Linked DNA regions of Homo sapiens. The protein of the gene in region 1 purifies or fractionates together with the protein of each later gene. This does not show direct contact. Each region holds a gene or a part of one and is shown on either strand. Other genes may lie near its edges.

What was found.
Region 2: the proteins of RAB25 (region 1) and D2HGDH purify together in Homo sapiens (co-immunoprecipitation; one large-scale study listed by IntAct). This does not show direct contact.

Annotation. Positions count from the first base shown.
Region 1 is NC_000001.11:156,067,582-156,071,004, forward strand, and holds the end of RAB25 (ras-related protein Rab-25 precursor), read left to right. Parts: intron 1-688; coding exon 689-882; intron 883-2,089; coding exon 2,090-2,170; intron 2,171-2,578; coding exon 2,579-2,706; 3' UTR 2,707-2,923; downstream 2,924-3,423. UniProt on the Homo sapiens protein: The small GTPases Rab are key regulators of intracellular membrane trafficking, from the formation of transport vesicles to their fusion with membranes.
Region 2 is NC_000002.12:241,732,938-241,737,041, forward strand, and holds the start of D2HGDH (D-2-hydroxyglutarate dehydrogenase, mitochondrial isoform 1 precursor), read left to right. Parts: upstream 1-1,692; 5' UTR 1,693-1,758; intron 1,759-2,195; 5' UTR 2,196-2,287; coding exon 2,288-2,579; intron 2,580-4,104.

The DNA.
Region 1 (3,423 bases):
ACTGTTAAGGAGCCATGTGAGGAAGATCTTGAAGGTGGCAGAGTTGGCTAAAGCCCAGATGTGCACTGGTGGAGAGTAGGGGCTAAAATCAGGACGAGAACCTGAGAAAGTAGAGGGGCTGGCTGTGAGGAAGCCAATAGAGATTTTAGAGCAGGGAGGTGAAACTTTATTTATTTAGTTAGTTAGTTGAGACAAATTTTCACTCTTGTTGCCGAGGCTGGAGTGCAATGGAGCGATCTCAGATCACTGCAACTTCCGCTTCCCGAGTTCAAGCAATTCTCCTGCCTCAGCCTTCCGAGTAGCTGGGATTACAAGCATGCGCCATCATGCCCGGCTAATTTTTGTATTTTTAGTAGAGATGGGGTTTCTCCATATTGGTTAGGCTAGTCTTGAACTCCTCACCTCAGGTGATCCACCCGCCTTGGCCTCCCAAAGTGCTGGGATTACAGGCGTGAGCCACCGCGCCTGGCCGAGGGAGGTGAAACTTTACAGGCTCCAAGACTAGTGTCCCTGGAAGGCAGAGGAGCCTTGGGCTGCTCTGTTGGGTTCTGGGCCCCTGGCCGCAAGTTTCTGTATTTCCTGATCTCTAGTACTCTGATCCCGGGTGTTCCAGCTTGACGGCTCTGCTCTGATGCTGGGTCCAATGCCTCTGATCGTATCTCTGTCCATCCTTCTCATTCCCACCCAGGTACTATCGTGGTGCAGTGGGGGCCCTCCTGGTGTTTGACCTAACCAAGCACCAGACCTATGCTGTGGTGGAGCGATGGCTGAAGGAGCTCTATGACCATGCTGAAGCCACGATCGTCGTCATGCTCGTGGGTAACAAAAGTGACCTCAGCCAGGCCCGGGAAGTGCCCACTGAGGAGGCCCGAATGTTCGCTGGTGAGAGCCTGCCACTACCCAGGCTGACTCCTCCAAGCTTAGCCCACCTTTCCCTTGCAGTCTCCCAGCCCCTGCCCCCACCCATAGAGCCCCTAGCCTGGCCTTCCTCCATACAGTCCTCTACCCCATCCCCTCTTCCTCAGGATTTCCCAGCACTTCCCCTTTGGGACCCTGTGTCTCCCATGATGTCCCACCACTTGCCCTGAGATTGTCTTTATTGATTTTTTTTTTTTTTTTTTTTTTGAGACCGGGTCTCAATCTGTTGCCTAGGCTAGAGTGCAGTGGTGCGATCTCGGCTCGCTGCAACTTCCACCTCTTGGGTTCAAGCAATTCTCATGCCTCAGCCTCCTGAGTAGCTAAGACTACAGGTGTGCGCCACCATGCCTGGCTAATTTTTGTATTTTTAGTAGAGATGGGGTTTCATCGTGTTGACCAGGCTGGTCTCGAACCCCTGACCTCAGGTGATCCAGCTGCCTCGGCCTCCCAAAGTTCTGGGATTATAGGTGTGAGCCACTGTGCCCGGCCCGTAGTTAATTTTAAGGCAGCCCCACCCTGTAATGCTCAAAGATCCTATGGAGAGGATAGGCTTCCCAGGAGTTTTCTGAGTTTAGAGGCAGCACAATATGGTGGTTAAGGGTGTTCTGGAGTCCCATGGCCCAGTCTCCCATCTGCTCTTGGCCAGTTACTAAATGTGGGACATGGAGCAATTTCCTTATTCTTTTTCTTTTTCTTTTTTTGAGAGGAGTCTCGCTCCGTCACCCAGGCTGGGGTGCAGTGGCACGATCTTGGCTCACTGCAACCTCCACCTCCTGGGTTCAAGCAATTCTCTGCCTCAGCCTCCCGAGTAGCTGGGATTACAGGTGCCCGCCACCATGCCTGGCTAATTTTTGTATTTTTAGTGGAGACGGGGTTTCACCATGTTGGCCAAGCCGGTCTTGAACTCCTGACCTCGTGATCCACCCACCTCAGCCTCCCAAAGTGCTGGGATTACAGGCGTGAGCCACCGCACCCAGCCCCTTATTTGTTTTCTTTGTGTTTCTGGATTCAGTTTTCTAAATGAACCTACCTTGTAAGTTGTTTTAAGGATTAAATGATCTGCTACATGCCAAGAGTTTAGCACATGGCAAATGTATATAGCAAACATTAATATTATTATTATTATTGCCTTTGACTCCCACAATTAATGGTGTGTTTCCCTTCCTGGCAGAAAACAATGGACTGCTCTTCCTGGAGACCTCAGCCCTGGACTCTACCAATGTTGAGCTAGCCTTTGAGACTGTCCTGAAAGGTTAGAGCCTACCTTTATTCTGCACCCCTATTCCATCCCCGTGGCTTCTACAGGCAGCAGTAGGAATGCAGACACTCAGCCCTCACCCCAGCTAATTTCTCAGCTCCTCTGTGGGTCCTGGCACCACTGCCTGTCCCCCTCAGTCCCTCCCCAGTGCCTCCCACTCAGTCTGGAGCTCAGGGAGGGAACAGGCCACACTCCCCATGGGGCTGACTCTTGGTTCCTTCTCCACCCAAGTAAGTAGAAGGGACCCCTATGTCCACACTTCATTTCCTTCCTGCAAAACCTCCTGCAAGTGTGGCCACCCCCCATGCTCAGAAGGGGCATGCAGTATGTATGGGGGGGTTGGGGAGAAGGGAGCATGGGCTCTAAATCTTCTGGCCTGATCACTGCCCTCTGCCCTCCCAGAAATCTTTGCGAAGGTGTCCAAGCAGAGACAGAACAGCATCCGGACCAATGCCATCACTCTGGGCAGTGCCCAGGCTGGACAGGAGCCTGGCCCTGGGGAGAAGAGGGCCTGTTGCATCAGCCTCTGACCTTGGCCAGCACCACCTGCCCCCACTGGCTTTTTGGTGCCCCTTGTCCCCACTTCAGCCCCAGGACCTTTCCTTGCCCTTTGGTTCCAGATATCAGACTGTTCCCTGTTCACAGCACCCTCAGGGTCTTAAGGTCTTCATGCCCTATCACAAATACCTCTTTTATCTGTCCACCCCTCACAGACTAGGACCCTCAAATAAAGCTGTTTTATATCAATGCCTGGTCATTCCACTGCCTCCCGTCTGTTCCTCCCTCTTCTCCTTGTCTGTGCCTCCCCTTCAACTTTGGCCCCTCCTCTGAGTCCCTAATCCCCTTCCTCTGTCCTCCCCACCATACCTACTGCCCCTCAGGGCCAGCTGCCTCTGGAGTTCTGTGGTCTGGGGACAGTGCCAAGGGGATAGGAGGTGCCTGCCCTTCCCTCTGCCAACCCCCAGGGCAGGTGGGGGAGGGAGGAGAGCATGGAGGGGAGGGGGTATATCTGGAAGGCGAGACAAAGGAAACCATCGGCGGGCACCATCTGGTGCTGAGGGCCCTGGTGCCAACAACTGAGGTCACTCCAATGCCAGGGGCAAGGGGAGGAGGCAGCGGGAGATACAAGGGGAGAAGAGGGAGTGGGGGCCAGTCCTGTAGGTGTGTACTGGGGAAGGGGTTTTTAAGCCTGAGAGGTGCAAGGTCCAAGTCCTCCATCCAGTCTTTTTTTTTTTTGAGATGGAGTC
Region 2 (4,104 bases), on another chromosome or scaffold:
TGATATTCATATATAATCATATCTAAGATCTATATCTGGTATAACTATTCTTATTTTATTATACTGGAACAGCTCGTGTCTTCGGTCTCTTGCCTCGGCACCTGGGTGGCTTGCCGCCCACAGTTGGTATCGAACTCCTGACCTCAGGTGATCCACCTGCCTCAGCCTCCCAAAGTGCTGGTATTATGGGCGTGAGCCACCGTGCCTGGTCAGAAAAATCAGTTATTTTAGGGGATGGTATGGGTGGTAATCTTTATGGGTTTTGAATCATTCCTAATCCCAGGGGTCCAAGATGCCACTGGCCTGCTAGTCAAAGGGAGGGCGTGTGGAGGTCAGGTGGTAAGGGGGTCCACAGACCTCATCTGTGGTCGTCTTTCCAGTTCCTGAATGTGTAATTGCAACAGTTACCCTTGACAATGGGCAAACTCCCACACTCATCTGCAGAGCAAGGGCCAGCCAGGTAGGAAGGGCCAGGTGGATGTCTCCTTTCCAGGGTTGTATGAATGATTCACCTGGGAAGAAGGTGAGTGGCCTCTGGGGATGTGGTTAAGGAGGACAGGAATGACTCCTTGCAACTGCTGCTCCAGAGCCTCATCACCAGGACAAATCCAGCTCGCCGGTTTTCTGTGTGACTACCAGGACCCATCTGCTGTCACGGGCGTAGCCTCCACCTCTTGCACAGCTCCGCAGTCCTGCCTCGGGCCAAGTGTGGTCTCCTGCTCTCTGCCCTCATCTGCTCAGAGATTGGCATCCTCTGCACCCGCTAGGGTTCTATGGAATTGGGTGAGCTGAAGTAACAAGTGCTTTGGGAGGCCGACGCGGGCGGATCGCTTGAGTCCAGGAGTTCGAGACCAGCCTGGGCAGCACATGAGACCTCATCTCTACAAAAATACAACAACAACAAAAAATTAGCCGGGTGTGGTGGTGCACGCCCGTAGTCCCAGCTACTTGGGTGGCCGAGGTGGGAGGATGGTTTGAGCTCGGGAGGCAGAGGTTGCAGTGAGCTGAGATCAACCCCAGAACTCCAGCCTGGGCAACAGAGCTAGACCCTGTCTCAAAAAAACACAAAACAAGTGCTGGCGATGCCTCAGGCAGGGGATCCCAGGCCGGGAGGCTCCTCGGGACAGCAGTTACTGCGTCAGGAGGGCAGGAGCTCCCCAGGTGTGCAAAGGGTTTGAGGGCACGGAGGGCTGAACAGGCAGAAGGGACAGGGAGGCAAGAAAACACCTGCAGGAGGCAGCTGCCCCCTAAGCTAAGGCTGGGGACCCAGGAGGGGTGGTCCGTGCAGGAGCTGGGGAGGCCGCTGGGGAAAGGGGCGCCCCCTGGGCTCGGCCTCGGAGGAGCGGGCCGGCCCCCAGGTCCCTCGGCCGAGCCCACGTCCCGGGCCTCGTTCTGGAGAACCCTCCAGCTGCTGCTTGGGCGTCTTGGGCTGCGCTCAGCCTAGTCCCTTCTCTACCTGGAGGGATGCGCCCGACAGCCGGCGCGCCGGAGGCCCTCAGGAAACGCAGGACGAGGCGGTGGCCGTCGAGCCTCCGGTGCCAGTCGGGGCGGGGCTTGGACGGCGGGGCGGGGACTGTAGGCGCGCAGGGCTGGGCCTGGAGGGCAGGCGGGGCGGGGCCCGTTAGGCGCGCGGGGCGGGGCTTCGGCCGCTGGGCGGAGCCGTCAATGCGCAGGCGCGGCGTCGCCCCGCCCACTCCGGCTCGGCGGCTCTGGGCCTGCGGCGGGCGCTGCGGGTTGGAGCTCGGGACGTGATCGTGGGTGCGTGCGCGCGGCCGCGCGGAGCGCTGGGCTGAGGGTCCCGGTCTGCGGTTCAGCCGCGGGTCGGGGTGGCGGGGCGCGATCTCGGGCGCCGTCAGCCAGTCGGTGCCTGTGGGGGGAGGGGGACGGCGCTGCAGCTCGTCACGTGACCGCGTGGAACACGCGCGCGCGTCCGCGGGATCCCCTCGGGGGGCGAGCTCGGAGGAACGGGGTCCTGGGCAAGGTCCCGGCGAGGCCGCCCCGAGCCTGCGCGTCGCTAAGTCCAGGCCTGCTGCGTGGGGCTTCGCGCGCTCGCGGGGTTGCGGCCCGGGCAGGGGGAGGGCCCGGGTGCTCGGAGCCTTCCCTTCGCTGCCCTCCTGCCCCCTCCCTGCTTCTGCAAGCGTGTTTCAATTTGTACAACGTGCATAAAACATGAAATTACCCTTGGCCACTTCCAGGCGCGCAGCCAGCGGCTCCCTGCCCTTCCCCTCCGGGCCCTGAGTACCGGCCCCCCACCAAGGAGGAGCCCGAGGTCTCCGTCCCGGCGGCGATGCTGCCCCGTCGGCCTCTGGCGTGGCCCGCGTGGCTGTTGCGGGGTGCTCCGGGAGCCGCGGGTTCTTGGGGTCGGCCGGTTGGCCCCCTGGCCCGCAGAGGCTGCTGCTCCGCCCCGGGGACCCCCGAGGTGCCGCTGACCCGGGAGCGCTACCCCGTGCGGCGCTTGCCGTTCTCCACGGTGTCTAAGCAGGACCTGGCCGCCTTTGAGCGCATCGTGCCCGGCGGGGTCGTCACGGACCCGGAAGCGCTGCAGGCTCCCAACGTGGACTGGTTGCGGACGCTGCGAGGTGGGTGAGGCTTGGGAAGCTGCGGCGTTTCCGCGTCCCTGCTCCGCTGCGCCTTCCCGTGGAGGCTTCAAAGCGGGCTGAGAACAACCTGGATGGGGGTGCCAGCCCCTGGCTGCGCTGAGAGGGGCGTGTGCACCGCCACAGGCTGCTGGAATGAATGACCACGAACGAGTCGCTTAGAACAACCCAAGTTTTGTTGTTGTTGTTGTTTTGTTTTTTCTTTTTTTTAAGACGGAGTCTCACTCTGTCGCCAGGCTGGAGTGCAGTCACGGAGTTTCACTCTGTCGCCAGGCCGGAGTGCAGTGGCGCGACGTCGGCTCACTGCCACCTCTGCCTCCCGGGTTCAAGCGATTTGCCTGCCTCAGCCTCCCTAGTAGCTGCGACTACAGGCGCCCGCCACCACGTTCCGCTAATTTTTGTATTTTTAGTAGAGACAGGGTTTCACCATGTTGGCCAGGATGGTCTCGATCTCTTGACCTCGTGATCCGTCCGCCTCGGCTTCCCAAATTGCTGGGATTACAGGCGTGAGCCACCCCGCCCTGCCAACAACCCAAGTTTGCCTGGCGCAGTGGCTCTGCCTGTAATCTCAGCTGCCCTGGAGGCTGAAGCCAGGAGTTCAAGACCAGCCTGGGCAACATAGCCAGAACCCCCGCCCCACTCACCTCTAAAAATAAAAATAAATAAATAAAAGTAGCCGGCCCAGGATTGAAAAAACAAAAAGTAAAAAAGTTACTCCAGCCCAGGAGTTCCAGTTTTAGTGGACTATGATCTCACCACTGCATTCCAGCCTGGGCAACAGAGCAAGACTACATCTCTAAAACAAAACAGAATTCCCCTCCCCACCAAACCCCACAAGTTTGTTCTCTAAGCTCTGGAGGCCAAAAGTGTGAAATCAGGGTATCACAGGGCTGCGCTCCCTCCAAAGCCTCCAGAGGAGGCTCCTTCCTGCCTCTTGTAGCTCTAGCTCCTGGTGGCCCCAGGTACCAAATTACTCCAGTCTCTGCCTCTGTTTTTCATACAGGTTTTTCTTCTCTGTGACTCTTCTCCAGTTGTCTTATAAAGACACTTCTCATTGGATTGAGGGCCCACCCTAATCCAGGATGATCGTATCTCAGTACTGTCAACTTAATTACATCTGCAAAGACCGTTTATCCGTTTTTTTTTTTTTTGGAGATGAAGTCTCACTCTTTTTGCCCAGGCTGGAGTGCAATGGTGCAATCTTGGCTCACTGCGACCTTCCCCTCCTGGGTGTAAGCAATTCAGCCTCCCAAGTAACTGGGATTACAGGTGCCCGCCACCATGCCCGGCTAATTTTTGTATTTTTAGTAGAGACGGGGTTTCACCATGTTGACCACGCTGGTCTCGAACTCCTGACTTCGGGTGATCCACTCACATTGGCCTCCCAAAGTGCTGAGATGACAGGCATGAGCCACTGCACTTAGCTGGACCGTTTTTTCTTTTTGTTTTTTTGAGACGGAGTCTCGCTCTGTTGCCCAGGCTGGAGTGCAGTGGCGTGATCTCGGCT